Linked DNA regions of Homo sapiens: regions 2 and 3 are each linked to region 1. Evidence: fine-mapped expression QTL. A gene starts in region 1. Each other region holds a variant in brackets. All regions are shown on one strand. Distances are from middle to middle. Region 1 holds the start of MARCHF8 (membrane associated ring-CH-type finger 8). Region 2 overlaps MARCHF8 (membrane associated ring-CH-type finger 8). Region 3 has its middle 57 kb from the start of MARCHF8.

Region 1 (10,767 bases):
TACCTTGGGCAGTATGGCCATTTTCATGATATTGATTCTTCCTACCCATGAGCATGGAATGTTCTTCCATTTGTTTGTATCCTCTTTTATTTCATTGAGCAGTGGTTTGTAGTTCTCCTTGAAGAGGTCCTTCACATCCCTTGTAAGTTGGATTCCTAGGTATTTTATTCTCCTTGAAACAATTGTGAATGGGAGTTCACTCATGATTTGGCTCTCTGTCTGTTATTGGAGTGTAAGAATGCTTGTGATTTTTGCACATTGATTTTGTATCCTGAGACTTTGCTGAAGTTGCTTATCAGCTTAAGGAGATTTTGGGCTGAGACGATGGGGTTTTCTAGATATACAATCATATCATCTGCAAACAGGAACAATTTGACTTCCTCTTTTCCTAATTGACTTTATCCATTTCTTCTAGATTTTCTAGTTTATTTGCATAGAGGTGTTTATAGTATTCTTTGATGGTAGTTGGTATTTCTGTGGGATCAGTGGTGATATCCCCTTTGTCATTCTTTATTGCTTCTATTTGATTCTTCTGTCTTTTCTTCTTTATTAGTCTTGCTAGCGGTCTATCAATTTTGTTGATCTTTTCAAAAAACCAGCTCCTGGGTTCATTGATTATTTTGAAGGGTCTTTTGTGTCTCTATTTCCTTCACTTCTGCTTTGCTCTTAGTTATTTCTTGCCTTCTGCTAGCTTTTGAATGTGTTTGCTCTTGCTTCTCTAATTCGTTTAATTGTGATGTTAAGGTGTCAATTTTAGATCTTTCCTGCTTTCTCTTGTGGGCATTTAGTGCTATAAATTTCCCTCTACACACTGCTTTGAGTGTGTCCCAGAGATTCTGGTATGTTGTGTGTTTGTTCTCATTGGTTTCAAAGAACATCTTTATTTCTGCCTTCATTTCTTTATGTACCCAGTAGTCATTCAGGGGCAGGTTGTTCAGTTTCCATGTAGTTGAGTGGTTTTGAGTGAGTTTCTTAATCCTGAGTTCTAGTTTGATTGCACTGTGGTCTGAGAGACAGTTTGTTATAATTTCTGTTCTTTCACATTTGCTGAGGAGAGCTTTACTTCCAACTATGTGGTCAATTTTGGAATAGGTGAGGTGTGGTGCTGAAAAGAATGTATATTCTGTTGATTTGGGTTGGAGAGTTCTGTAGATGTCTATTAGGTCCGCTTGGTGCAGAGCTGAGTTCAATTCCTGGATATCCTTGTTAACTTTCTGTCTCGTTGATCTGTCTAATGTTGACAGTGGGGTGTTAAAACTTTCCCATTATTACTGTGTGGGTGTCTAAGTCTCTTTGTAGGTCACTAAGGACTTGTTTTATGAATCTGGGTGCTCCTGTATTGGGTGCATATATATTTAGGATAGTTAGCTCTTCTTGTTGAATTGATCCCTTTACCATTATGTAATGGCCTTCTTTGTCTCCTTTGATCTTTGTTGGTTTAAAATCTGTTTTATCAGAGACTAGGATTGCAACCTCTGCCTTTTTTTGTTTTCCGTTTGCTTGGTAGATCTTCCTCCATCCCTTTATTTTGAGCCTATGTGTGTCTCTACACGTGAGATGGGTTTCCTGAATACAGCACAGTAATGGGTCTTGACTCTTTATCCAATTTGCCAGTCTGTGTCTTTTAATTGGAGCATTTAGTCCATTTACTTTTAAGGTTAATATTGTTATGTGTGAATTTGATCCTGTCATTATGATGTTAGCTGGTTATTTTGCACGTTAGTTGATGTAGTTTCTTCCTAGCCTTGATGGTCTTTACAATTTGGCATGTTTTTGAGTGGCTGGTGCCAGTTGTTCCTTTCCATGTTTAGTGCTTCCTTCAGGAGCTCTTTTAGGGCAGGCCTGGTGGTGACAAAATCTCTCAGCATTTGCTTGTCTGTAAAGGATTTTATTTCTCCTTCACTTACAAAGCTTAGTTTGGCTGGATATGAAATTCTGGGTTGAAAATTCTTTTCTTTAAGAATGTTGAATATTGGCCCCCACTCTTTTCTGGCTTGTAGAGTTTCTGCCGAGAGATCAGCTGTTAGTCTGATGGGCTTCCCTTTGTGGGTAACCCAACCTTTGTACTCTTTCTATCGCCTTCTTAAAACTGGAAGGGTGAGTGAGATAGGGCAACAGTAGCCATCTCCATGTCATCTAGATTAGTTAGATTAGGGATAACACAAAGGAAAAATTAAAATTTTCTCTATCTATCTTAGTCCTTTTACTATTTCTATGGCTTTAATATACTCGAAAGTTCTGCAACCAGCACCATAGTCAATTTTAGAATATTTTCATTATCCTAAAAATAAATCATTGAATCCACTGCTTCCTCCCGTTTACCCATTCCTACCCCAGCTCTTGGCATGCACTGCTCTACTTTCTGTCTCTATAGATTTATCTCCTCTGGGCATTCCATACAACTGTCATCATGTAATATATGGTTCTTTGTGACTGGCTTCTTAGTATAATTTTTTTCTTTTCTTTTTTTTTTTTTTTGAGACAAGGTCTCACTGTATCACCTAGGCTGGAGTGCAGTGGCGCCATACCGGCTCACTGTAGCCTCAACCTTCTGGGCTCAAGCGATCCTCCCAACTCAGCCTCCTGAGTAGCTGGGACCACAGGCATGAGCCACCACACCCGGCTAAGTTTTGAGTTTTTTGTAGGGATGTGGTTTTGCCATGTTGCCCAGGCTGGTCTGGAACTCCTGGGCTCAAGCGATTCACCCACCTTGGCCCCCCAAAGTGCTGGTGTTATAGGCGCGAACCACCACACCTGGCCTACTTAGCATAACTTTTTAAAGGTTCGTCCATATTGTGGCATGTGTCAGTACTTTATTTCTTTTTATTGCTGAATATGATTCCGTTGAATGGATATAGCTTATTTGATTTATCCGTTTATCATTTGATGGACGTTTAGGTTATTTCCACCTTTTGGCTATCATGAGTAATGTGATAGAAACATTCATGGACAAGTTTTCATATGAGGAGATGTTTGCATTTCTCTTTGGTGTATATACCCTAGGATTGAAGTTGTTGGGTCATATGATAACATGTTTAACCTTTTGAGAAAGAGCCAGACTATTTTTCAAAACGACTGCATAGATCCTCACTAGCAGTATATGAGGGTTTCAGTGTCACAACATCCTTGCTAACACTTGTTTGTCTTTTATTATGAACATAATTAAAGTAATATCTAATAGTTTTGATTTGTATTTCCATGATGGCTAATGATGTTGATTAACCCATTTTTCATTGGGTTATTTGTCTTTATTATTATTATTATTATTATTATTATTATTATTATTATTATTATTTTGGTAGAGATGGGGCCTCGCTATGTTTCACACACTGGTTTTGAACTCCTGGCCTGAAGCAGTCCTCCCACCTCAGCCTCCGAAAATGCTGAGATGATAGGCGTGAGCTACTTGCACCTGGCCTTGCCCTTATGTTACTGAGTTGTAAGAGAGTTGTTTATATATTCTAGATACAAGTCCCTTATTACATATATGATTTGCAAACTTTTTCTTCTGTCAGTTGTCTTTAGACTTTTTTTTTTTTAACATTTATAAATAGAGGTAGAGTATTGCTATATTGCCCAGGCCTTTCTTGAGTTCTGGCCTCAAGAGATTCTCTTGCCTTGGCCTCCCAAAGTTCTGGGATTATAGGTGTGAACCATTATGACTGGCTGTGTTTTCCCTTTCTCAGTGGTGTCTTTTGAAGCACAAAAGTTTTTATTCTGATGATGTGTAGTTTGTCTGTTTTTCCTTTTGTGTGAGGAAGAGATCCAAATTTCTTTTGCATGTGGCTATCTAGTTGTCCCAGCACCATTTGTTGAAAACAGTACTCTTTCCCCAAGAAGTGATCTTGGCACCCTTCTTGAAAATCAGCTGACTATAGATACGTGGGTTTATTTCTGGGCCCTAAATTCTATTCCATTGATATATCTATTCATATTCCAGTATGACACAGTCTTGATTACTGTTCCTTTGTTGTAAGTTTTGCAATCTGGAAATGTGAGCTCTCCAACTTTGTTCTTTTTCAAGGTTGTTTTGGCAGATCTGAGTCCCTTGAATTTTATATAAATTTTCAGATCAGCTTGTCAAATTTCTGTAAAGAAGTCAGCTCAGTTTTTGATAGAGATTGCTTTGACTCTCTATGTCAACTTGGGAAGAATTGCCATTTTAACAATATTAAATCTTCTGATCCATGAACATGGACATCCATTTCCAATTTCTTCAACAACCAGCTTTGGCAGTATCTCTTCTAGATGTGAATGTTCATGTTAGGTGGGCTGTATTTTGCAAGTTAGCATTAGTCAAATTGAAGCCCTCATGCCTGGATTGTGAGGCATAGTGCTGAGGTTTAACTGTTATTCTGTGTAAAGATTAATTTAGTTGATATAAAAGATGTTTGGAAATTATGCAAAGAAAATAATGTAATATATGATTTGTATTTTTCATGTAAATCTTCACATAAAAAATGGCATGGCCTGTTTTATCGTTTGTTTGTAAACTCATTTTTATCCTAAATATGTGTGGCATAGGAGGGAGATTGTTTCAGGCAAACTTATAGGTCTGTTGCTTTGTTGTGGTGGTACATATCAAAAGACTAACTTCAATGACAGTGAGGAGGGATGTCCTTCAAAACTGTAAAAAATTTGAGACCCTCTTGCATCTGTGTTTCTGTGCCATAAATAGCCCTTCTCAGGCTTGTCATGGGCATGTACCAATGATGTAATAATGATGATTATATCAGAAGCACCACAGGTAGCTTTTGGCATGGTAGGTATAGGGCTGTGGATATCGTCAGTTTGACCAAGTATTCCAAGAGGCCCCATGGAGTTTGTCATCTGTAATAGAGGACGTTAGTGCATTAGTGATGAAAAAACTGCTTACCACTGACTATTGTGATCTCCCAGGGAGTATAAGGCAGCTCCGCAGTAAGTGCCTCTTGTTTTGTGTGACGTGCTTGAATACAAACATTCAGACTGTTTCTTGGGCACAGTAGTGCTCCATCTTATGCCAGCCTCATCAAAGGCTTGAAATAGAGTAGGTGGTGTGTGATACCTAGACACTAACATCCCCTATTCTATTTTCCTTTTTTTGTTGTTATTATCAATGGTCACTCACTTACTGTAAAACTAGACTTTATAAACAGATTATTATTTTAGCTAATTTTCTTCTATGTGTTGATCCCTCCCAGTTTTTGTTCCTTTTTGTTGTTCATTGATTCTAGAGTTGTGTGAAGGAAGCCATTTCGTGATTCCTGGTGCTCCTCTGCTTGCTTAGTGACACTACTAAGAATTGGCACCAGCCTTACAAACACCTGCCTTTGATCCAGAGTAGAGTTTGGGGAGAGGTAGAGTAAGTGACTGCTTATCAAATGTGACCTTGGGGTTGTCAGGCCCTGTTGTTTACCCTACCTTTTCCTACTGCCTCACCTGTCCCCACCCCCTACCCCAGCACATGGTTAATAAATGAAAATCTCCAAATTCGAGATTCATTCTTTTGGTTGAAGGCTTCCATTTTCTGTTAAAATTTGAACAACATGAAACATTTTACTACATTAAACCTTCTGGATAATTTACGTTTAATTGGTTTTGTATACAGAGTGGGATAGATCTCAGTGGGTAAGTGGGGAGAAAGAACAACACACAATTCAATTATTAGACATTTTGGGGGATGCGTAAGAGAAAACCAGAAACAGGGCAGGAGTACCTGGAATCACTGAAGACAGTTTATGCATACACTGTTATTTTACCTAAAGGCAGCCTTTCTCATGGTTCTTAGGCATGTCATGGTGACCCTTCATATTCCCTAGGAAACCCTTTACGGCAGTGTTTGGCAAACTATAGTCTGGTGGGCCAAATCTAGCCTGCTGCCTATTTTTGTAAATAAAGTTTTATTGGAACATAACTATGCTCATTCATGTACATACTCTTTTTTTTTTGGTGGGGGGGAGGTTGGGGGGTTGGAGTCTCGCTGTGTTACCCAGGCTGGAGTGCAGTGGTGCGATCTTGGCTCACTGCGAGCTCCGCCTCCTGGGTTTGTGCCATTCTCCTGCCTCAGCCTCCTGAGTAGCTGCGACTACAGGCGCCCGCCACCATGCCTGGCTAATTTTTTGTATTTTTAGTAGAGACAGGGTTTCACCGTGTTAGCCAGGGTGGTCTCGATCTCCTGACCTCGTGATTTGCCCGCCTTGGCCTCCCAAAGTGCTGGGATTACAGGCATGAGCCACCGCACCCGGCCCATTTACATGCTCTCTATGGGTGCTTTCATGCTACAGTGGCAGAGTTAATTAGCTGGAACACACTTGGACCACAGTGCCTAAAATATGTATCTTGCCCTTTATAGGAATAGTTTGCCAACAGCTCGTGTAGAGTCTCTACTTTTGGAAGGTTAAGTATGGATCATAGATACCTTGAGTTTAATTTGGACTTCCTAACCTCTGATCTCACCATTATGTGGACTCACAGACAGTGGTTTTAAGGAAAGATCACTGCTTATTTCAGGACAAATGCTTGGTCATGATAAAAAAAAAAGTTTAACTTCAAAAATATTCTTAAAATAAATGGTGGCACTGCTTTGTTTTAATCCTAAGTAGCCAATGGAAGATTATATCTCTGATTATACATGTACGTGATCCACCTGCCTCTTTCAGGTGCTCCCATCTTATTATGAGAAATGTTAGAATTTTCCCCTTAGACATTCATCTTCTATTGTTTTTGAAGACCAAACATTTATGTTGCCGTAACTTATTTAAATATACATATGAATATAAGTATAAAATGTTAAGCTCACTCTTGGAAATTTAAAGTGTTTTAGCTGAGTTATGTTTATTCTCTCTTCATTTTCTCTCAGCTTGAAATCCATGGCCCAAAATGACTCTACCAGTGGAGACTCTCTTCTGTGAAGAAGACGACCAGATAAGAGGTTGGGATGAGCATGCCACTGCATCAGATCTCTGCCATTCCATCCCAGGATGCCATCTCTGCTAGAGTCTACAGAAGTAAGACCAAAGAAAAGGAGAGGGAAGAACAGGTACTGGGAGAGTATCTTTTTTAGTTTCATTATTTTTATTAAATTTTTATTAAAGATGACCTAGAACAGTGCTTAAACTCTAAAGGTCAGGTTTTCTCTGATAATATACTGACAAGCACACAAATAGTTGTACTCAGAAGGAATTGTCTTTTTGTAGATTTCTAGGTTTTCAGATTTTGGTGTAAACTACTGTTTATAAATGGTTATAAATGACTTATCTTCATTGGTTAAATCTACCTGATTATTTTTGGTTAATCACTGTGACTAAGTTCTTTGGATTCTCAGAACATGATGCTGCTAGTTTCCTATTCATCGTAGTGTGAAATTTGGACACCAGATGGCTGGAATTTCTTAATATGTGTCTTAGTCTGCCCTAGCTGCTGTAACAAAATGCCATAGCCTGGGTGGTTTAAATAACAAGCATTTATTTCTCACAGTTCTGGAGGCTGGAAATCTGAGATCAGGGTGCCAGCATGGTTGGATTCTGGTGAGGTCTTACTTCCTGACTTATAAACAGCTGCCTTCTTGCTGTGTCCTCACATGGCATAGAGGGAGGAAGGAAGCAAGCTGTCATGTGGCTGTTCATATAGAAGGACTGATCCCATGGAGAGGGTTCCACCCCTAGGACCTAATTGTCTCCCCAAGGCCCCACCTCCAAATACCATTACATTATGGATTAGAGTTCTGGCATAAAAGTTTTGTGGGAAACATAAACATTTAGTCCATAATAGTGTGTACATGGGGAAGCTATACAAACTTGTTTGGAATAGAAAAAGGAAAATGTCCAACAGTTAGGCCAGGAAGGGAGATTCTTTTTGATATACACCCTCACTGCAGGTTTACTGTAGGTGGTTATTTAATAAAGCCTTATTGAATTTATCTATTTGATGGGATTTTTAAGGTCTAAATAAATAGCATTAATCAATTATTTGTAGAATGGGGATTTTTATTGGTATTGGGAAGAAAGAGAAACCATTCTGTCTTACCTTAGTGTGGGGATGGTTTGAACACCCAGTGGCAGCCTGACAGTTCAGGGTGTCGTGGAGCCCAGATGAGGTGGCAGTAGTGGAAGAGCAGTTGAACCAGGAACTTGCAGGGCCCCGTGAGAGCTTCAGCAGCAATGGCACAGGATGAAAATAGTGGTTGTGTTTCTAGGGTCTCAATTGTGGTATCAGGTTTGATTTGAAAGGTAAATTTTTGTCCAGTGGAGCCCATTTTTATTTATGCAGTTTTTCCTGGCACAGGTTCAACCCAAAATCTTTTGCTATGATTTCTGATCCTCCTGTGCTTGGGAGATATTATTCCTACTGAGTCCCATAAGAAGAGTGAACCCTTGCATTTTACCTAGACTCAAATAATCCACCTGTTTGCTTAGTCTAATCTGTTAACACACCCTCGCTGAAGCCCATAACTTCTACAGAGGGTTAATGACTTTTATACAGTACTCAATACAGTTGATGAATGAATGAATGAGTGAATATGAATTCAGTTTCAGTGATATGGGTCATGTCACTGTGGAGATGATCTTTTATTTCAAATACAGTATGAGAACCTTACAATAGTATACTTTCATTTCTTTCCTTCTGGCCTTTTCATTATTGTCTTTTAATAAATTTTAAACCCTAGAATATATTTAAAAAAATACTTTCTCTTTAAATACTTTTCTTTTAAATAATAATAAAGATCTGTTTACTCAGATAATTACCATTTCTGGTGTATTTCCATCTATCATTTTTCTTTTGTCTAAAGGACTTTAGCATTTCTTATAATGTGAGTTGGCTGACAATGACTTCTTTCAGCTTTATTTAAAAAATATTTTTTATTTGTTTCTTGTATTCTGAAGTTGTGCTTGTGGATCAGTGGGTTTACAATTTTCATAGAATTTGGAGCTTTTTGGCTATTCTTCAGATACTTTTTCTGTCCCCCCATTCTTTCTTTGGGGACTCCAGTATACACATTGACTGGCTTAAAGTTGTCCACTGCTGCACTTTTAATTTTTTAAGGTTATTTTTTCTTTCTGCATTTTATTTTGGATATTCCAATTACTTTGTTTATAATTTCATTAATATTTTCTTTTTCAATATCTAATCTGCCAGTAATTCCGTCTAGTGTGTTTTTCATCTCAGACATGTTTTATCACTAGACATTTGTTTTGGATCTTTTTTATATCTTCCATGTCTCTATGCAACTTTTTTAGTATATGAAATAACAGCTATAATGACAGTTTTAGTCCTCTTTTCTGTCATTGTTGGCATGTGTGACTATTCTGAGTTTGCTTTTCTCCCTCACTTCGGTCAGTTTTATTTTCATTTTTGTTATTATTTTTTACTTATTTTTGAGTACAGATCTTGCTCTGTTGCCCAGGCTAGCATACAGTGGCGTGATCACAGCATACCGCAGCCACGAACTCCTGGGCTCAAATGATCCTCCTGCCTCAACCTCCCAAGTAGCTGGCACTATAGACCATGCCTGGATAAGTTTTTCTTTCATTTTGTAGAGTCGGGGTCTTGCTATTGCCCAGGCTGGTCTCAAACTCCTGGGCTTAAGCAATCCTCCCATCTTGGCCTCCCAAATTGCTGGGACTGCAAGTGTGAGCCACTGCACCTGGCCCAGTTTCATTTTTAAGTAAAAGTTTATTTCAGACTAGTTTTAGATTTACAGAAAAATTGTTAAGCTAGGATGGAGTATTTTCATATACCTGACACCCAGTTTCTCATATTGTTATTATTTATAGATTTAGTACAAGTGCAGTGTTGTTACACCACCTGAATAGTGCACATAAGCACCCATGAGGTAATTTCTCATCCCTCACCCACTCCCATCCTCCCACCTTTCTGAGTCTCCAATGTTATTATTCCACTCTCTATGCCCCTGTGTACATATTTTTCAGCTCCCACCTGTAAGTGAGAATATGTGATATTTGACTTGCTCTTTCTGAGTTATTTCACTTAAGATAGTTACCTCCAGTTCTATCCATGTTGCTACAAAAAAACATGAATTCATTCTTTTTTTATAGCTGAGTAGTATTCCATGATGTGGATTACTTTATCCAATCATCCGTTGATGGGCACTTAGATTGATTTTATGTCTTTGCTATTGTGAGTAGTCCTGCAATAAATATTTGAGTACAGGTATCTTTTTGATATAATGATTTCTTTCCCTTTGCGTAGATCCCCAGTAGTGGGATCACTGGATCAAATGGTATTTCTATTAGTTCTTTGAGAAGTCTCCATATTGTTTTCCATAGCAGCTGTACTAGTTTACACTCCCAACAACAGTCTGTGAGCATTCCCTTTTATCTGCATCCTTGCCAACATCTGTTATTGATTTTTTTGACACCTGAGTAATAGCCATTCTGACTGGTGTGAAATGGTATTTCATCGCTTTTATTTGCATTTCTAACTTTTTAAATGTTTCTTGGCCATTTGTATGTCATCTTTTGCAAAATATGTGTTCATGCCCTTTGCCCATTTTTTAAAAAGGTTATTTTTTTCTTGTTGAGTTCTTTGTAGAGTCTACAAATTAGCTTTTTGTAAGATGCATAGTCTGCAGATATTTTCTCCTGTTCTGTAGATTGTCTGTTTTCTCTGTTGATTATTTATTTGCTGTGTAGAAGCTTTTTATTTTAATTAAGTCCCATTTGTCTATTTTCATTTTTGTAGCTTTCCTTTTGAGGTCCTAGGCATGAATTCTTTGCCTTAGGCCAATGTCCAGAAGAGTTTTTCCTAGGTTTTCTTCTAGAATCT
Region 2 (10,767 bases), 35 kb after region 1:
AAGTAGGGGTAGAATGTTGCTGGGAAACAGAAGTTTTCTGGCTTAAACAGTAACTAGATCACATCTGGCATTAATTACAAGCCTGTGGTATTGATTAAAAACAAATAAATGGATAGCAACTTAACTGTAACAGAATTTGGCGATAGCAACTGGGTAGTTGCAAGTAACAGACCCTAATATGTGAAATTGGCTTAATAGATACAAGTGAAGTCAGGCAGTCTCTTGCCACAGGGATTGTTTTAGGATAGTGTCTACCCCTAGGACTGGGAGTGGGGACCCAATCCTACTGAAAGTCAATGCTGAGAAGTTTAGGGCTCTTCAGGGGAAGGTAAAGGAGAGAATAGTGTTGGAAACTCTGATTTGTGATAGGGACAAACTGAGCCATGGAGGGAGCCATCAAGGCGGGTCTTGATCCTGTGCTGTGAAGTAGGCAATCCTTCTTTCTTATTCAGGAGTAGCTGGATTAATAATATGTCTTGTTTTTTGAACAGTGAGATCTTGATTAAAGGCAAGAAGGCATAAGTGCTTAATTGTATATATAATTAACAGCTCGAAATGAGCAATAAAATGAAATTTATGTCTCTTATAAAAGTAGAAATGCAGAATGTAGGGCCACCTTTGTAGAATGTCGGAATTGTTAATGATCTCTGGCCACTCAGTATAAGCCCCTACTCAGGAGGAAGAGGGACGCAGTAAGGGAAATACTAGTGCTAAAAGTGACAGTATTTTCAGCAAATTGGCATATTTTTCTTTTAAACATGCCAGATACGCGAACATGAATCTTGACATCCTTAGCTCTGATTATAGTCATTAGTATCCTCTTTAAATTTAGGAAACACCATCTAGAAAGAAAATTGGCTATATTTATTCACCATGTTTACAGTATAAGAATGAAATTCATACTGTATGGTGTTTTGTTGTTAGATTCTGAGTGAGTGTCCATTCACTTAAATTTCCAATATCCAGTGCTAGCTTTGTGCTAATGGCTTGTAATTAGATAGCTGGTGTCCTGTATTGATTAGCTTATACAGAAAAAACACTGGAGAAAAAACAAGGTGTATAGCACAGTGTTTTATACATCATAGGTTATTTTTTGGATCTTAGTTTTTTTCGAGACGGAGTTTCGCTCTTGTTTCCCACGCTGGAGTGCAATGGCGCGATCTCGGCTCACCGCAACCTCCGCCTCCCAGGTTCAAGCGATTCTCCTGTCTCAGCCTCCCAAGTAGCTTGGATTACAGGCATGTGCCACCTTGCCCACTAATTTTGTATTTTTAGTAGAGACGGGGTTTCTACATGTTGGTCAGGCTGGTCTTGAACTCCCAGCCTCAGGTGATCTGCCCGTCTCGGCCTCCCAAAGTGCTGGCATTATAGGCGTGAGCCACTGTGCCAGGCCAGACCTTAGTATATTTTAAAAGTTGAGATACAGCTTTCATACCATTAAATCACCCTTTTAAAGTGCCCAATTAGTAGATTTTTAGTGTATTCATAAGGTTGTACAGCTGCCACCACTGTGCCAGTCCAGAACATTTTCATCACCCGAAAATGAAACCCTCTACCCATTAGCAGTCACTCCCCATTCTCCCATCCCCACAATCCTTGGTAACTGCGAATTTACTTTTTGTCTTTGTGGATTTGCCTATTTTTGACATTTTATATAGATGGAATCATATAATATATGATCTTTTGCTACTGGCTTCTTTTACATACATAGCATAATGTTTTCAGGGTTCATATTGTAGTATGTGTCAGTATTTATATCCTTTTAATGACTGAATAATATTCCATTGTATGGATAATACCACATTTTGTCTCTCCATTTATGTGTTGATGGACATTTGAGTTGTTTCTACCTTTTGGAAATTTTTATTTGTGTTTGCTTGGTATATATTTTCCCATTCCTTTATTTTACACTACCTGTATCAATGAAACGAGTTTCCTATAGATAGCATATAATTGGTTGTTTTTTATTTATTTTTAGTTTTTATTTTATTTATTTATTTATTTATTTATTTATTTATTTGAGACGGAGTCTCGTTCTGTCGCCAGGCTGGAATGCAGTGGCACGATATCTCGGCTCACTGCAACCTCTGCCTCCCGGGCTCAAGCAATTCTCCTGCCTCAGCATCCTGAGTAGCTGGGATTACAGGCATACGTCACCATGCCTAGCTAATTTTTGTATTTTTAGTAGAGACGGGGTTTTACCGTGTTGGCCAGGATGGTCTTGATCCCTTGACCTCGTGATCTGCCCGCCTCAGCCTCCTGAAGTGCTGGGATTACAGGTGTGAGCCACCGTGCCCGGCCATAATTGGTTGTTTTTTTAAAAAGTCAGTTCTCCACATTTGTGTCCTGTAATTGCAGTGTTTATGTACACTTAATTGTTGCTATATTTATCTATTTGGAGTTTGACTATCTCTTTGCTTTTTAAAAAATGAGTTACAAAATACATACTTCTCAGAGTCTATTTAGAATCAGTATTTTGCTACTTCAATTGTAGTGTAGAAACTTCGCTAAAATATAGAAAATATATCACAACTTTCACTTTCCCCCTTTCTGTTACAGTTATCTTACATTCTACATTGCATACCTTCAGAGCCCCTCATAGAATGTATTATTATTATTATTATTTGCTTTCAGCCGTCAAATGTAAAGAATCAAGAGAAAAAGAATAGTCAATTGTTTTTGTCTGAATGCTTAGCCTTTCTGTTGCTCTTTCTTTATTGCTGATATACACATTGTTTTCTGGTATCATTTTCCTTCCATGTGATGAATTTCTTTTAAGCAGTTCTGTTGGTTGCTAATCTTGTTGTTACTCTTTGTCTGTGACTGTTTTTATTTCCCTTCATTCCTGAAATATATTTTCACCACATACTTAGTTTTAGGTAAACAGGTCTCTTTTGTCAATATTTGAAAAATGATGTTACTTCTGACTACTGGCCTTGAGGGTTTCCTGATGAGCAAGACACAGTCATTTGAATCATTGTTCCTCTATAAGTAATGCATCCTTTTTTTCTCTCTGCTTTCCAGATTTCTTCTTGTCTTCATTAATTTGACTATGGTATGCCTGGGCATAGGTTTCTTGTAGTTCATTCAGTTTTTTGAATGCATAGGTTTATGTCCTTCTCCAAACTTGGGAAAATTTTAACAAATTTCTTCAAATATTTGCCAGCACCGTACTTTCTCGTTTACTGTTTGGAATAATTTGTAGCCATTTGGGATTGGCTTTTTAAATTAAGTGTAATTCTCTGGAGATTTCTTCCAGGTTTGTGTTTATCAATAGTTTGTTCCTTTTTACTAGTGGAGTAGTTTTCCATGTTATGCACGGACCACAGTTTTCTAACCGTTTACCTGTTGAAGGACATTTGTTTGAACAAAGCTGCTATAGACACCTATAGGTTTTTATGTGAACATGTGTTTTCATTTCTCCAAGGTAAATCTTCAGGAGAGCAATAGCTATTTCATGTTTAATTTTTAAAGAAACTTCCAAAGTTTTTTCCAGGATAACTGTCATTTTATTTTCCTGCAAGCAATATATAAGTGATCTAGTTTCTTTATATCCTCAACATTTGGTGATGTCATTATTTAAAAAAAAATTTTTAGCCATTCTGATAGGTGTGTAGTAATATCTCATTGTGATTTTACTTTCATTTATCTAATGGCCAGTGATGTTGAACATCTTCTCATGTGCTTATTTGCCATCTGAGTATCCTATTCATTAAGATGTCCCTTCACATGTTTTGCCTATTTTCTAATTGGATTTTTAAAAATGTTCAGGTCTAAGAATTCTTTCTGTATTCTAAATACTAGTCCTTAATTGGATATTCATTTGCAAATATTTTCCCCCAGGCTATAGCTTTTATCTTCAGCCTTTTAGCGGGGTCTTTCATGGAGCAAACGTTTCTGATTTTGATGAAGTTTAATTGATCAGTTTCTTAAATGGATCCTGCTTTGGGTGTGTAGTATAGGAACTCTTTGCCCAACCTTAAATCCTGAAGATTTTCTCCTATTTTTTAAAATGTTTTATGGTTTTAGATTATACATGAAGTCCATGAACTATTTTGAGTTAATTTTTGTATAAGTTTGAGACTCAAGTCAAAGTTCATTGCTTTGTTCCAGCATCATTTGTTGAAAATTCTCTTTCCTCTATTGAATTGCTTTCTTAAAAATCAGTTGGGCATATTGTATGGGTTGATTTCTGGATTCTCTGTCTTGTTCCATTGATGGTTATGTCTGGTTCTTCACTAGTACCACACAGTAGTGATTACTCTGGCTGTATATTAGTTCTTGAAATTGGATGGATGGATTTCTCCCAGTTTTTTTATTCTTTTAGGATTCTTTAGGATTGTTTTAAGTATTCTAGTTCCTTTGCCTATCCATATAAATCTTAGAATAACCTGTCTATATCTAAAAAAAAAACTTGCTAGAATTTTGATAGGAATTATGTTTAAGCTGTTTATCAATTTGGGGAAGAGTTGTCAGCTTACATTATATTGAATTTTTCATTCCAGGAACAGTATGTATTTTTATATGTTGAGATCATTTTTGATCAATTTTTTTTGCAGCATCAGCAATCAGATTCATGTTTTACTTGATGTGCACCTAAATACTTCAGTTTTTTTAGAGTGGCTCTATAATAGTAATTGTGAGTTCTTTTGTTCATTGCTATATGTGTGTTATATATATGTATATATATATATAGCAATGCAGTTAATTTTTGTATGTCTATTTTGTATCCTCTGACTTTGCTGGACTCCTTCGAGGACTTTGTTGTTGCTATTGTTAATACCTTAGGATTTTCTACATAAGCATTCATGTCATGTGCAGATAGAGATTTTTATGTCTTTCATTCTGATATATATGCCTTTTATTTTGTTTATTTTCCTAATTGTGGTGGCTAGAACTTTTGGCACTATGATGCATCAGAATAGTAGAAAACATTCAAGAAACTGGGAATAGAGGGAAACTACCTCAACATAATAAAGGCCATATATGAAAAGTCTGCAGCTGACATTATAGTCATTGGCGAAAGTCTGAAAATTTTTCCTCTAAGATCAGGAGCAAGATAAGGTTGCCTGGTTTTGCCACTGCTGTACAACACATTACTGGAAATCCTAGCTGAGCAATTAGGCAAGAAAAAGAGGTAAAAAGCATCAAAATTGGAAAGGAGTAAAATTATCTCTTTACATATGACAAAATTTTTTATATAGAAAACCCTAAAGTTTCCATGCAAAACAAACAAAAAATCAGACTAAATGAATTCAGCAAAGTTTCAAGTTATAAAATCAACACACACACACAAATCAGCTGTGTTTCTATATACTAATAATGAACAATCTAAAAAGGATATTGAGAAAACAGTCCTATTTACAATGGCATCAAAAATGCATAAAATAGGAATAAACTTAACCAAAGTGGTAAAGACTTATACACAGAAAACTACTATATATTGATGAAAGAAATTAAAGAAGACATAAAATAAATGGGAAGACATCCTGTGTTTATTGGAAAACTTAATATTGTTAAGATGACAGTACTGCCCAAATCAATCTGTATATTCGGTATAATCCTTCTCAAAATCTCAGTGACTTTTGTTTTACAGAAATAGATAAATCTGTCCTGTAATTTATATGGAATCACAAGGGATCCTGAATAGCCAGAACAATTTGAACAAAAAGAACAAAGTGATGGTGTGATGCTCCCTGACTTCAAAACTTATTACAAAGCTACAGTAAACAAGTTAGTGTGGTACTGGCATAAGATAGACATAGAAACCAATGGAATAGAATAGAGAGTCCCAGAAATAAAGCCTCACATATTTGGCCAAATGATTTCCCACAATGGCGCCGAGACTAGTCAGTGAGGAAAGGACAGTCTTTTCAACAAATGATATTGGTGGGGGTGGCAGGGGTCTGGATATTAAGAGGCAAAAGAATACAATTGGACCCTTACTTTACACCATGTAGAAAGATTAGCTCAAAATGGATCTAAGACTTAAAACTAT[A/G]AAATTCTTAAAAGAAAACCTAGGGAAAGAAGCTTCTTGACTTTGGATTTGGCAAAAATTTTTTGGATATGACACCAAAAGCAAAGGCAACAGAAGTAAAAATACAGAAATTAGATTACATCAAAATTTAAAACTTCTGGGCATCAAAGGAAACAGTGGACAGGGTGGAAAGGCCACTTAGGGAATGGGAGATATTTACAAATCATATATCTGATAAAGGGATAATATCTAGAATATATAAAGAACTCCTACATCTCAACAGCAACAAATAATCTGATTCTAAAATGCTTGAATAGACACTTTTCCAAAGAGGATATACAAATGGCTAGTAGGCATATGAAAAGATGGTCAACATCATTGATAATTAGGGAAACGCAAATCAAAACCACAGTGAGATACCACTTTACAACCATCAAGGATGGCTGTTATATATATTTTAAAAATGTGTTGATGAGGATCCGAACAAAGTGGAACGCTGATTGTGCACTGCTAATAGGAATGTAAAATAGTGCAACCACAATGGAAAACAGTATAGGAGTTCCTTAAAAAGTAAAAGATAATTATTACTGTATGACCCAGGAAATCCACTTCTGGGTATATACCCCAAAGAATTAAAAGCCAGGTCTCAAAGAGATATTTGTATACCTGTGTTCATAGCAACATTATTTACAGTGCCAAAGGGTGGAAGCAATACAAGTGTCCATCAAAGGGTGAATGAATAAATAAAATATGGTACATTTATTGCATATAGTTTCACATTTGTTTTAAAAAGAAAAGGATTCTGGCTGGGCACAGCGGCTCACGCCTGTTATTCTAGCACTTTGGGAGGCCGAGGAGGGAGGATCACCTGAGGTCAGGAGTTTGAGACCAGCCTGGCCAACATGGTGAAATGCCATCTCTACTAAAAATACAAAAATTAGCTGGATGTAGTGGTGTATACCTGTAATCCCAGCTACTTGGGAGGCTGAGTCAGGAGAATTGCTTGAACCCAGGAGGTAGAGGTTGCAGTGAGCCGAGATCATGCCACTGCACTCCAGCCTGGGTGACAGAGCGAGACTTCTCAAAAAAAAAAAGGCTTCTGACACATGCTACAACACGGAGGAATCTTGAGGACATTATGCCAAGTGAAGTGAGCTAATCGCAAAAAGAAAAATACTGTTATGATTCCACTTGTATAAAGTATCTAGAGTAGTCAGAATCATAGAAACAGAAAGTAAAAATTTTTAAAAATATTTCGGGGGTAGGAAGATATAGGGAATTGTTTAATGAGTATAGAGTTTCAGTTTTTGCAAGATGAAAAAGTTCTGTAGATTGTGCAACAATGTGAATATACTTAATACTGAACTGTACACTTAAAATGGTTAAGATGGTGAATTTTATATTATGCATACTTTATATGATGGTGTGTTTACATTGTGTGTATTTTGCCACAATTAAAATGTTAAAAAGAAATGGTGAAAGCAGATAGAATTGCTGTTAAAATTTAGGGAGTAAGCATTCAATCTTTCACCATTAAGTATAATGTTACCTGTAGTTTTTTAGTAGATGTTTGTATTAGTCTGTTCAGGCTGCCATAACAAAATACCACAGACTGGGTGGCTTAAGTAACAGAAATTTAATTTCTCACATTTTTGGAGACAAGAAGTCCAAAATCACGTTGCCAGAAAATTTGGTTTCTGGTAGGCCTTTCTTTCTGACTTACATATGACTGCGTTTTCTCTGTACCTTTCTTTAATCTTGTCATTTACAGCTATAAATATCCCCCTAAGCACTATTTTAGTTGCATTGTGTAAGTGTGGTATTTTGTGACTTCATTTTTATGAATCTCAAATAAATTTTCTAGTTTTTTTTTGGTGAGTTCTTTTTTGATTTACTGGTTATTTCAGATTTTGTTGTTTAATTTCCGCATTTGTGAATTTGGTAGTTTCTCTCTGCTGTTGATAAACAATAACATTTAACTCTAAAGTTTAACTCTGTTGTAGCCAGAATCATACTGTATATGATTTGAGTCCTTTTACATTTACTGATGTTTGTTTTGTGGACTACTCTATAGTCTGTTGTTGTGCACTTGAGAAGAATGTATATTCTGTTGTTGTTGTTGGGTTTTGTATTCTGTGGATGTCTGTTAGGTCAAGTTGGTTTAGTGCTGTTCAAGTCTTTTACATAGCTCGGCTGTTCATTGTTGAAAGCAGGATTTTGAAGTCTGCAAGTATTATCTGTTTTTCAGTCAGCTCTGTCAGTTCTTGCTTTATGTATTTTGTGGTTTTCATATTAGGTGCTTATATATTTATAATTATTATACCTTCATGATGGTTGACCTTATCATAGTAAAAGTCCCTCTTTAGCTCTAGTAAAATTTTCCTAAGTCTTTTTTATCTGATATTAATATAATGACTACCCCTTTTTATGGTGGTTGTTTTTGTGCTATGTATCTTTTTGCTTCTTTTACTGTAATCCTGTTTATAATTTTGAGTCTAATTGTATCTCCTGAACTTAGAATACAACTGGATTTTGTGTTATTGTACATCCTGACAACCCTTCCTGTTGATTTGTTAATCCATTTGCAGTTCATGCTATTAATGATATGGTTTGCTTGTTTGCCATTTTACTTTTTGTTTTCTATGTGTCTTGCCATTTTTGTTCCTGTGTTCTTCCTTTATTGCTTTCTTTTGCATTATTTTGTATTGTAATATTTTAATTCCTTAAATGATTTTTAAAAAAGATTTCTAATGCTATTTAAAAAATTATTTTCTTAATGGTTGAGGGTTTACTATATATATATATATTTTTCTAACAGAATCTTCTTCAGATTCATATTGATTTAATTCCTGTAAGACATAGAATGATTCCTCCTATGTACCTCTATTTCTTTACTAATTATTGTTTATACATATCTATTTATGTTACAAACCCAACAATACATTGTAGCAGTTATTAGTTTATTTAACTGTCTTTTAAAGACATAAAGGAAAGGAGAGCATTATATGTTTATACAGTTTGTTATTTTAAAGTTAGCACTCCTTATTATCTTCATTTGTTTCAGTGTAGAGTTTCCATGTGATATCATTTCCTTATGCCAACCTTTCATAGTAGAAGTCCCTCTTTATCTCTGGTAAAATTTTCTGAATTCTGTTTCGTCTGATATTAGTATAATGATGACAACTTTGTACCCACTTATCTTGTATTACTATTAAATACATTACATTTCTTTATGTTATAGGTTTAACAATACAATTATAAACATAGTTTTTATATAATTCCTTTTTAAATTATTTAAGAAAGGAAAATATATATGCAAAATATATATGCATTTATATTGTCTTATAGTTACACAGTTACTTTTGACTACTGTTTGGCAGTACATGCTTTCAACTCAAAGAACTTCCTTTAGTATTTCTTTTCAGGTGCATCCACTTGCAATGAATTCTCTGAGTTTCTGTTTATCTATGAATGTATTTTTCATCTTCATTTTTGAAGATAGTTTTGCTGAATATAATTATCTTGGTTCACATTTTTTTTCTTTGAGTTCTTTATGTCCTTCCACTGTCTCTGGCCTCCCTGGTTTCTGAGGATAAGTCAGCTGTTAATCTTTTTGTGGTTCCCATGTACCATGGAGAATATGATGAGTCATTTATTTCCTGCTGCTTTTAGTTTTTCTTTTCCTTTCTCCTTTCTTTTCTTTTCTTTTCTCTCTTCTCTTCTTCTCTTTTCTTTTTTCTCTTTTCTCTTTTCTTCCTTTCCTTTCTCCCCTCCCCACCTTCCTGCCTGTCTCCCTCCCCTCCCCTAGCATCCCCTCCCCTCCCCTCCCCTCCCCTCCTAACAAATTAAGAGATAAGAAAGCTTGTGATAATGTTTGTGTAGATGGGAGTGTCTTTTCCTCTTCTTCATGGCCATAAAACTCCTCCTAGACAGGGGAATTATGGTACGTTTACTCTTGATCTCCTTCCTGGGAGTAAACCGTTGAAGAGGGAATTTATGGCAGCCTCATTTGTCACAGTTTCTGCTTTTAATCATATAAGGGAAGTATGGAGAGGGCTTCTTCCTGCATTCATTGAATATCAGATGTCTTCAGCTTAAAATCATGATTATGTCAACTCTGAGTTTTGAATGGGTCCTCACAAAAGCATCAGATCAGAAGAGATTTAATACATAAACAGATGCAGGAATCTAGCTGTCTTCTATTAAACAATGAGATTTATAAAAATGTACAGGAGTGCCACTCTGCTCACTAATTTTTTTTTTTTTGAGAAAATAGTTAAACTTCATTGAAATGTTATTTATGTTAACTGGGTTTATTACTAATGCTAAATGAATTAAGAGATATAGTTTTTACGCTGTCAGTTTTAATGTCTAATATTGCAAATACCCATAGATAAAACCCTACATAATCCAAAGGTTTTGGGAGTCCTTAATCTTTTTCTTTTCTTTTTTTTTTTTTGAGATGGAGTTTTGCTTTTGTTGCCCAGGCTGGAGTTCAGTCGCGCGATCTCGGCTCACTGCAACCTCTGCCTTTCAGGTTCAAGCAGTTCTCCTGCCTCAGCCTCCCAAGTAGCTGGCATTACAGGCATGTGCCACCACGCCCAGCTAATTTTTGTATTTCTAGTAGAGATGGGGTTTCACCATGTTGGCCAGGCTGGTCTCGAACTCCTGACCTCAGGTGATCCTCCCACCTCGGCCTCCCAAGTGCTGGGATTACAGGTGTGAGTCACCACGCTTGGCCCTTAATCATTTTTTACAGGATAAAGGGGTCCTGAGACCAAAAAGTTTCA
Region 3 (10,767 bases), 58 kb before region 1:
AAAGAACTAGAACATGGTTGGGCGTCGTGGCTCACACCTGTAATCCCAGTGAGAGGTGAAGCCAGCTGGACTTCCTGGGTCAAGTGGAGACTTGGAGAACTTTTCTGTGTCTAGCTAAAGGATTGTAAATGCACCAATAAGCACTCTGTAAAATGGACCAATCAGTGCTCTGTAAGATGGACCAATCATCAGGATGTGGGCAGGGACAAATAAGGGAATAAAAGTTGGCCACCCCAGCCAGCAGAAGCAACCTGCTCGACTCCCTTTCCACACTGTGGAAGCTTTGTTCTTTTGCTCTTTACAATAAATTTTGCTGCTGCTCGCTCTTTGGGTCCGTGCCACCTTTAAGAGCTGTAACACTCACTGCAGAGGTCCGTGGCTTCATTCTTGAAGTCAGTGAGACCAAGAACCCACCAGAAGGAACCAACCCCGGGCACACCAGCACTTTGAGAGGCCGAGGCGGGCGGGTCACCTGAGGTCAGGAGTTCGAGACCAGCCTGGCCAACATGGTGAAACCCTGTCTCTACTAAACATACCAAAAATTAGCTGGGTGTGGTGGCAGGCGCCTGTAATCCCAGCTACTCAGGAGGCTGAGATGGGAGAATTGCTTGAACCAGATAGGTGGAGGTTGCAGTGAGCTGAGATCGCATCATTGCTCTCCAGCCTTGGCAACACAAGCAAAACTCGTCTCAAACAACAACAACAACAACAACAACAAAACTAGAACATGGTTGATGGGTTGATGTATTTAACCATTTGGTAGGGAGTCAGTGTGACTGGTTCTGGAGATAACACTGATCACTTGGCTCAAGCCTGAATTCTTTCTTATGTCTTCATGTCCCACAAACTGTAGGAGAGGGTAGGTAATTTCCCTATGTGGGCTAAGGCAAAGGAAAGGCAGTGTATTAGGAGTCCCCATTAACACAAGCAGGGAGGATTTGGAATTAAGCTGTTGCCACAAGGCCAGTATGCCTCTTGGAGTGAGCACCTGGTGCCCTATGAGCAATTCCCTTACTGGCTGCCTTACATTCTGAGTGCAACAGTTTCTTCCCAATTGTGCTTTGTTTCCTTGCTGGCAATCCGCCCCCCCCTTTTTTTTTTTTGGAGATGGAGTCTCACTCTGTCACCTAGGCTGGAGTGCAGTGGCATGATCTTGGCTCACTGCAGCATCTGCCTCCTAGGTTCAAGTGATTATCCTGTCTCAGCCTCCCGAGTAGCTGGGATTACAGATACCCGCCACCATGCCTGGCTAATTTTTGTATTTTTAGTAGAGAGGAGGTTTCATGTTGGCTAGGCCACGTTGGCCAGGCCGGTCTTGAACTCCTGAGCTCAGGTGATCTGCCTGCCTCGGCCTCCCAAAGTGCTAGTATTACAGACGTGAGCCACCACGCCTGGCTGGCAATCCCTTCTTGAACTACACTCCAGGTGGCAAGAATCTGGACCCAGGACCTGGACACGTTCAAGTTGTCAGCTCCCTTTCCCTCAGGACTCTGACCTCCTATACTAATACCCCGTCGCCAAAGACCATATTGGTTAACATTTACCCAACACTGTATGTATTGGGCACTTAAAAGTGTTATACAGGCATTACCTCATTTTGTCTCATAACCACTCTATTCAGTAGATATCTTTCAGAAAGCTGAAGAGAGGCTCGGAAAGGTTAAGGAAATTGCCTAGACAGTAATGGTTGCGCCAGGACTCACCCTAGCTTTGTCTCCATGAGTGCTGCTTATCAGCCCTGCATAGCTCACAGATCCCTGTTGAACTACGAAGGTTCTGCCGCTTCCTGTAGAAGGATGACAGGATTCCATATCCATTCATCAGTCAGCCAACCCTTTGGCTCAACAAGCCTGGTCTAGGCATAAGCTATACCAATGGAAGATATTGGTACTACCTTCATGGAACACCTGCTGCCAGAAGCAGTAGAGCCAACCAGGTTGTGGCAACTGGCCTTGATAACCTATTTTCCACAGTAAAAGACAAATGGAGAAAATTCATCATTTTTCTGCTCTTTGTAATACTGTATTGTAAGTGTGTTATAGAAATGGAGATGTTTTGACCTTGCTGATCCAGAGGATATCTTGAGCACACTGTTTTGAACCTGACAATCTGCTTTTTACTTAGCCAAAAATTCAAAGTGGTCAGAATTGTAGGGAGGAATTGATTAGCTATATGATAGATCACTCCGGGACAACAGAACAACTATGGAATATTTGAGAGGATTTGCTTATAATTCACTCATGAATTTACTAAGAAATACAAATTATTCATCTTTTATGCATGATTATGGGAGAAATAAAACTGGCAGTGGTTGAAACTATTTCTGGGAAGTTTGATGTAGGAAAATTGGATTTGGTAGACAGTGATGAAAGTGACAGAGGAATAATGAGAGTTTTATGTGGACAAAAGATGAATGCAGAGTCTGGCCCGGTGCAGTGGCTCATGCCTGTATTCCCAGCACTTTGGCAGGCAGAGGCAGGCGGATCACGAGGTCAGGAGATTGAGACCATCCTGGCTAACACGGTGAAACCTCGTCTCTACTAAAAACACAAAAAAATAGCCGGGCGTGGTGGCGGGCGCCTGTAGTCCCAGCTACTGGGGAGGCTGAGGCAGGAGAATGGCGTGAACCCAGGAGGTGGAGCTTGCAGTGAGCCGAGATCGTACCACTGCACTCCAGCCTGGGCTACAGAGTGAGACTCCGTCTCAAAAAAAAAAAAAAGAGATGAATGCAGAATCAAATATTTAGACGTCTGTATGTACACAGAGATGATTCCCCCATAAAAATTAAAATACAACTTAAAAGTAAGAAGTCGTATAAACCTCCTTCACGTGCTTTCTCTGGCTGAGAGGCTATGCTGTGGGAATCTTTCAGTCCAGATTAGGGAGCGAAAGCAAACAAAAATCTGTCAAGGCAAAAACCGTTATTACTTATTCCTTCGCTTTTCCTCCCGTTTGATAGCCTCAGGTAAGAAAGTATTTTCCATCTTCTTCTCCAAGTAAAACATCCTTTTGCCAGACAAAATTTCCTTTTCCTTCCAAAACACTAATATTAATAACATGTAGTCAGGGCCAGGAGACACTAAACGACACACACAGAGCTGGGGAAGTCTTTTCGGTTCCAAGCCCAGTGGGTTGTCGCCTGGGCACTGCGAAGGGGTGGAAGCACAGAAAGGCCGCGCGGCGGCACCCGCTGCAGCCCGCCCCCAGCGCGCTGCAGTCGCCGGGGCAACGCCTCCACCCAACTCGGCCGGACACGTGACGCCCGCGTCACGTGACCTGCCACTCGGTGTCCTCCCGCGGAGGGGCGTAGGGTGTAAACAGGCGACGCGCTGGGGGAGGTGCGGCCTTGCTGCGTCCACGTCTCGGGCATGCTCGAGGCGGGCCAGGGCGGTAGCGCCGCCAGCTCAGAGCCCACCTGAGGTAACTCCTGCGGCCTCTAGGATCGGAGTCCCCCACGCCGCGCGCAGCCGCCGCCGCTGGCCGCCAATAAGGGCGGCCGAGCCCCCGGCCCGGGCAGGGGGTGTGGCTGCCGGCAGCGCGTCGGCTACAGGTGGGCTGGGCTGGGCTGGGCTGGGCTGGGCTGGGTGGGGGCGGCCGCCAAGGACCCATCCCTGCGCTGCGGGCCCGGCGTGGAGCCCGCGGAGAGGCAGCGCGACTCCAGGCAGTGGGTCTCTCTGCCCCGGTGCTCGCGTCTGCCCCTGGGGCCGGGCCGAGCGGAACCAGGAATCGCAGAAACGGTCAGCGCCCAGGGCTCTAGGCCGGCCGCCCCGGGTGCCAGGTGAATTCCTTTCCCTGACCGGCTGTGAGACGTTGGCCCGTCAGCCGTCGTCTTTGGCCTGAGTGTGCACATCTGTAAAATGGAAGCTCGGACTAGTGATCCGTGAGGACCTTCCACGTCTGACGTGTGATCTCGAGAGACCTGCGTACATTCGGGGTGCCAGAAGGAAAGCATAGGTAACTATTTTGTCCTTTAATTGCTAACTTTTCTTTGGTCTTTAAATCTGTTTTCATCTTAAACGATTCGTATTCCTGTCCACCTGGGTGAAGTTTTTAATAGAAAACTTATTGGGTGGGGGTTATAATGGTTTATGTTACCGTTTTCATGTTTCTTTAATGCAACAAAACCTTTTTTTCTTAAAACCTATTTGGAAGCCCAAATTGTAAAAATAAATAAATAAAAATGGAACCCTTTTCTGCCTCACTATCACTATTCTCACCACCCATCCCCACGCTAACTACCCTTGAGGACCCCTGCAAGTCATAGGTTGAGGAGCTCTGTATGGAGTTGAGGAAATGTTTTGTGTATTTTTTAATTTGATGGGATCTGGAAAATGAATTCTTTGCATGTGTGGAGTTTTCTGTTATTTTTCTCTTTATTTTGTTCGATTGCATGCTATGTAATTAGACAGCTAGCATAACCCTCACATACCATACTTCGGGGCCTTTTTGGCCCCAAAATTTCTGATAAAGACGTTTCTCTTTCCATGTTTCCTTGCATCCCAGTCCCTGGGGAAGTAAGTGTATGTTTATAATAGTGAGACTTCATTCCTCATTGCTGATTTAGTTGCTCCGATACAGAATGGGAATGGGAGACTTTTGAGGCCAACCGAATGGGTTAGGACATATCTGAAAAACATGAAAACGCTAAAAAGCATGAAAACTGAAGGAGTATACGAACTCAAGTCGTTGAGAGTCATGAAATAATGTGAACATGCTCTTGTGTGAAATCTTGAGACCCTGGAGCAAGAGAATTTTGGATTTTGAGAGAACTGAGTTCAGGAGAGAAGGATGTCCTGTTTCATATGGTGAGTGAAAATATAAACAGTATGAGGTGGTAGTGTGTAGACAAAATTATCAGGTTTTTTTTTTTTAAGAGTAGCACATAGTTTCCTAATTGATTTTGGAGACTAGGGTTTTAAGAGATGTACTGAAACTTGAAGTTTAATGTTACAAGAGGGAAACCATACTCTTTTACACCTTGTCTGCTTGGTGCTTCTGTGAGTTGAGCAAGAATTGGAAGTGGAATGTACTGTAAGTGGTACCCAAGGTGACCTAGTGGAAAGGTTTTCTCTTTTCAAA[A/G]CCAACTTACTTCCCTGATCTTTGGCTTAAGCTTAAGCAAGTCAGTTCCTTTCTTTGGTTCTCAGTTTCTGCTGAAAAATGAGGAAATTGGATTGATTACTATTCTACCTTTTGGCTCCAGCTAGGTTTGCCAGATAAAATACAGGATGCCTAGTTGATATGAATTTCAGATAAACAGTGAATTTTTGTAAAATTTTTAAAATAAATTTTTACTATAAATATTACGTGGGAGCATACTTGTACTAAAAAAAAGATTCGTTGTTTGTCTGAAATTAAAGTGTAACTGGGCTTGCTGTATTTATATTTCCTAAATCTGGCAGCCTTAGCTCCAACATTTTTGTCTCCTTTAAATTAGTGCCAGCTCAAAGCAGAGCTGGGAATGAATTGATTCAAGCAGCCAAGAAACCCTAATGGTTGTCAGTAGTAGCGTCTGGTTCTTGAGGGTTGTCGTTGATTCACTTGTGGTTTGTTTCTTTTTCCCTTATGTAGTAGTTCCATTTCTGCTATAATCACATAATGTTTAGGTTTATACTTCTGGTGGTAAGTAGTTTAAAATATCTGAAAGCAAGTTAAAAATATTGCTGAAATTTCTAAAAGTAACCTCATTTTTTCGAGCCTTGAAATGGTATGTGCTTTTTCCCCCCCGTAAAAGACACTTTACAACCCTACCTGTTCCCTAGGTTTGTGGTTGACTGCAAGACATTTTCTAAAGCCGTGGACTGTTCTGATGCCAAGTAATCAGGAAGTTATTCTTATGGCTTCTAATTTTGTTCCCTGTGAATATGAAAAATTATCACTGTATACACTATAAACATTTTATATTTTATCTGACTGTTGTCAGCTTTGTCTTTGCTGTATTGAAGGGTTTTCAATTTTGAAATTCTTTTTCAAGGAGTGTAATTTTAAACTCTTTCTTTCTTTCTTGTCCAGACCAATTTCTTAACTCACTTGGAAATGCCTGAATTTTCTAATTCATTTTTTAAATCAATAGTCAACAAAAAATTTGGTGTGTTTGGAGAGCCAGGTTGATGATGTGACTGGTGTTCTAGTTCTCCAGGTGCTAATTTCTGATAGAGGAGTTAAAACGTGTAATCTGAGGATAATATGATGAAGGCTTTGAAGAGGTACAAATGCTATGGAAATTGAGAGGAAGGATGGGTGCCCTTCAGATTGATATATGGAAGAAAATCTCTGGAGGAGGTAGAAGTGGATTCTGGACATGGAAGTAGAGGTGGGATCAGGAAGACAGAGGTGGACAGAACGGTGGAAAGAAGTGGATAAGGGCAAGGAATCTGTCTTCTCAGTTCTACAAAGCATACACTTTGCTGGATTTAAAATACTTTACAATATTGTGTATGTGTGGTGTTTGGTTCACTGTGATGCTCTCATCTCCTTTATATTTACTTTGAACTGCTCTGGTGTCTTTCTGTATTAGAAAGACCTTCAGTTGTCAGTGAAGCTCTTTGAAAAAATGTTTATTAAATGTGTCACGCATATAAGAGTATGTATTGAAAAAAGTAGAATATTACCAATAGCATTGAGACCTCCTGTGTACTTCTTCCTTCCTCTCAAAGGTAACCAGCATGCTGAATTCTGTGTCTGTCATTTCTTTGCTTGCTGCTGCTGCTGCTTTTTTTTTTTTGAGACAGAGTTTTGCTCTGTCACTCAGGCTGGATGGAGTGCAGTGGCACCATCTTGGCTCACTGCAACTCTGCCTCCTGGGTTGAAGCAATTCTCCTGCCTCAACCTCCCAAGTAGCTAGGACTATGGGCACACGCCACCATGCCCTACTAATTTTTGTATTTTTGTAGAGACAGGCTTTCACCATGTTGGCCAGACTGGTCTGTGTCTCAGGCGTCCATGTGAAGAGACCACCAAACAGGCTTTGTGGGAGCAGCAAGGCTGTCTGTTTCACCTGGGTGCAGGCAGACTGAGTCCGAAAAGAGAGTCAGCAAAGGGTGGTGGATTATCATTAGTTCTTATAGGTTTCTCAACACCTATAAGGTGGTGGAGTTAGGAGCAATGTTTTGCGGGCAAGGGGTGGAACTCACAAAGTACATTCTCAAGGGTGGGGAGAATTACAAAGAACCTTCTTAAGGGTGGGGGAGATTACAAAGTACGTTTATCAGTTAGGGTGGGGCAGAAACCAATCACAATGGTGGAACGTCATCAGTTAAGACTATTTTCACTTCTTTTGTGGATCTTCAGTTGCTTCAGGCCATCTGGATGTATAAGTGCAGGTCACAGGGGATATGTTGGCTTAGCTTGGGCTCAGGCCTGACAGTCTTAGACTCCTGACCTCAAGTGATCTGCCTGCCTTAGCCTTCCAAAGTGCTGGGATTGCAGGTATAAGCCACTGCGCCTGGCCTGCTTTCTTGATAATGTTATTTTACGTTGTATATGTATATCCCCCCAAAATATTGTTTGCTTATGCATATTTTTAAACTTTATATAAATGGCATCATGCTATGTGGACTTTTTTTCCTGCAACTTTTTAAATTAGTTACTAAGTTTCATCCATGTTTTTCTTCAAAGGTAAGAATTTCTCTGGAATATACATCTAGGATTGGAGTTGTTGTTTGTCAGGTGCGTACACCAGTAACTACTAGATACAAATTGCTTTCCAATGTAGCTGTACGGTTTTATTGTCCTACAAGCAGTGGGAGAGTTCCTGTTTTTATCCTGTCTACATGCTCCCCAGTGTTTGGTATGAGAAAACCATGTATCTATTAAAGGTCTAGTATCCAGAGTAAGTATCCAGAGTATTTAAGGAACTCTTATACCTCAGTCATAAAAAGAAAAGGAACTCAAAAAAATCGACAAAGGATTTGAATAGGCAGTTCTTCAGATAAGACATACAAATAGCCAGTAAGCACATGAAAAGATGTTTTACATCATTAGCTACCATGTAAATGGAAATCAAAACCACAGTGAAATACCATGTTACACCAACGAAGTAACTAAGACGGTTACTAAGTGACTGTCTAAGTGACCATCTTAGTAAACTAAGATGGCTATGTATAATAAAAAAGACAGGTAATAATAAGTGTTGGTGATGTTGTGGAGAAATTGGAATCTACATGTTGGAATGTAAACTGGAGCAACTGCTTTGAGAAACAGTCTGGCAGTTCTTGAAATGGCTAGATTTGGGATAAGGGATGATAAAGCAGTTCCACTCCTAGGTATATACCCAAGAGAAATGAAAACATATATTTATGCCAATATTTGTATGTACATGTTCACAGTAGCGGTAGCCATAATAGCCAAAAAGTTGAAACAACTCAAACATATATCAACTGATGAATGGTTTAAATAATGTGGTCTATCCATGCAGTGGACTATTATTCAGGAATAAAAAGGAATGAAGTACTGACTCATGCTACAAATGGATGAACCTTGAAAACATTCTAAGTGATAAAAGAAACAGTCACAAAAGGCAACACATTGTGTGATTACATTTATATGGAATGTCCAGAATACAAATATAGAATTAGATAGTAGATTACTGGTTGCCTAGAACTGGTGTTGGGGTAGGGGGTGGGGAAAAATGGGGGTTTGACAGCTAAAGAGGACTAGGTTTCTTTTTGGGGTGATAAAATATTCTAAAATTGATTGTGGTGATGGTTGTACAGTTCTGTGCATTTGCTAAAAACTATTGAATTGCACACCTGCAAAAAAGCTATTAGTGGAAAGAAGGAAATTTTTTTTAACAAAGATGCCATGTTGTATGCCTCCTGGAGAATCCTAGGTGGTAGGGACTGAGACTTGCTTATAGCCATGTGACTGAGATGGGAACCATATCCTTTTAATACATGGAGGCCTTCAGAGGATCCCACAGCTTGGCCAGCAGCTTGACTGCAACCCCATGATAGACTTTGACCCAGAAGTACCCAGCTAAGCTGTGCCTAGATTTCTGGCCTATGGTAACTATGAGGTAATAAATGTCCATTGTTTTAAACTACTGAGTTTTGGGTTAACTTGTGTGCAACAGTAAACACTCATAAGCAGCAGTGTTGCAATGTGTATTTTTTAAATTTTAGTTTTCTGGAAAACTATGGTGATTAAATTACTAAATTATAATATGGATTCTTTTTTTTTTTTTTTTTTTTTTGAAACGTAGTCTTGCTCTGTCACCCAGGCTGGAGTGCAGTGGCGTGATCTTGGCTCACTGCAAGCTCCACCTCCCATGTTCATGCCAGTCTCCCTGCCTCAGCCTCCTGAGTAGCTGGAACTACAGGCACCTGCCACCATGCCAGGCTAATTTTTTGTATTTTTAGTAGAGACGGGGTTTCACTGTGTTAGCCAGGATGGTCTCGATCTCTTGACCTCGTGATCCACCCACCTTGGCCTCCCAAAGTGCTGGGATTACAGGCATGAGCCACTGCACCCGGCCTATAATGGATTCTTTTATTCATTATTTTGTTAACCACAATTCATAACCAATAGTCAATGATACATTTATTGAGATATCCTGCCAATTATTGGGGATAAATTATACTTAAAATGGCTAAAATTTCTTTTATTACAGTTTGAAAAAATGTGTAATCTCTGTATAATACAAGTCTTTATCAACCAAAACAGGCAATTTTAAGACAATATAGCAGTACATAACATTTCACATATTGGTATGGTTTTCTGGTAACTTTTATATTTAAAACATAAGTGGTATTAATATGTTGGGAGATTTATTTATTTATGACTTCAGCAAAGGCACTCAAAAAAGAATCATCAAGGCAAAACTACCGTCTCATAGAAGCCAACCCGTTCTTGTAGGAACTATATGAAAGGAGGTTAAAAAGATTTTTGTTCTTTTCCTTTGAATATTTCTGTTCTTCAGTTGAAGAAATGTTGTATGACTGTATGGATAAGGAAAGTGTTTCGAAATTTCATTTAAGAAATGAAGACATGTTTTCACAGTTTGTAAGGATTTTCTTTTTTTTTTTTTACTTTTGACAAAATGAAAAAATATATTTATTAGCATGTAAGGATAGCTGAAATATTGTGTGAAAAAAAGCCTACTGAATTTTCTCCTATGTTCTAGAGGTTTTATAGCTCCACTATTAAGGTTCATGATCAATTTTTAGGGGTTGATAGGGTGTTTGGTATGAGCTATGGGTCTAGGTTCTTTACTTTCCTTTATGAATACACAGTTTTTTAATTTTAATTTTATTTTTTGTCCGAGGAGGCCTTGGGCTCAAGCTAGCTGGTCTAATATACATTTTTTAATATCATTTGTTGAAAAGGTAATTCTTTCCCTATTGAGTTTCTTCCCCTTTCTCTATCCTTTGCCCATTGAGTTCTCTTGGCATTTTTGTTGAAAGTCAACTGGTGATGTATGTGTGGATCTGCTTTTGGACTCTCTCCTGTTGCTTTTGCTGTCTGTTCTTATGTCGGTACCATATTATCTTTATCTATAACTTTATATGAGGTTTGAAATTGGTTAGTGTAAATCCTCCAACTTTGTTCCTTATTTTCAAAAATTTTCTGGGTATTATAGGTCCTTTGTGTTTTCAAAAGTATTTTAAAATCAGCTTGTTAGGTTTTTTAAAAAAGAAAACAACTTGTGGTTTCAATTGGGATTGTCTTGGTTCTATAGATCAGTTTGTGGAGAATTGCTATTTTAATGTCATCGAACCTTTCAATACATGAACATGGTATAGCTCTCCATTTATTTAGTTCTTTAATTTC

What was found. PIP is the estimated chance that this variant, and not a neighbour inherited with it, causes the effect.
Region 2: its variant is fine-mapped to the expression of MARCHF8 in whole blood (INTERVAL, PIP 0.95).
Region 3: its variant is fine-mapped to the expression of MARCHF8 in whole blood (TOPMed, PIP 0.96).

What each region holds. Positions count from the first base shown.
Region 1 is chr10:45,529,364-45,540,130 of GRCh38, reverse strand. MARCHF8 (membrane associated ring-CH-type finger 8) reads left to right here and starts at 4,760. Exons shown (of 8, transcript NM_001282866.2): 1 at 4,760-4,920; 2 at 6,842-7,021. The coding sequence starts at 6,920.
Region 2 is chr10:45,494,790-45,505,556 of GRCh38, reverse strand. The region is part of intron 2 of MARCHF8 (membrane associated ring-CH-type finger 8); the gene reads left to right. All of the region lies in intron 1 of LOC105378286 (a long non-coding RNA gene), which reads right to left. Among named protein-coding and RNA genes, the nearest start is that of MARCHF8, 35 kb to the left of the region's middle. RefSeq lists an enhancer at 1,682-2,182. The variant A/G (reference allele first, on the strand shown) is at 5,999.
Region 3 is chr10:45,587,422-45,598,188 of GRCh38, reverse strand. It overlaps a transcript of MARCHF8 not described here. Among named protein-coding and RNA genes, the nearest start is that of MARCHF8, 57 kb to the right of the region's middle. RefSeq lists silencers at 3,116-3,185, 3,466-3,625, 3,726-3,795 and an enhancer at 6,587-7,087. The variant A/G (reference allele first, on the strand shown) is at 5,080.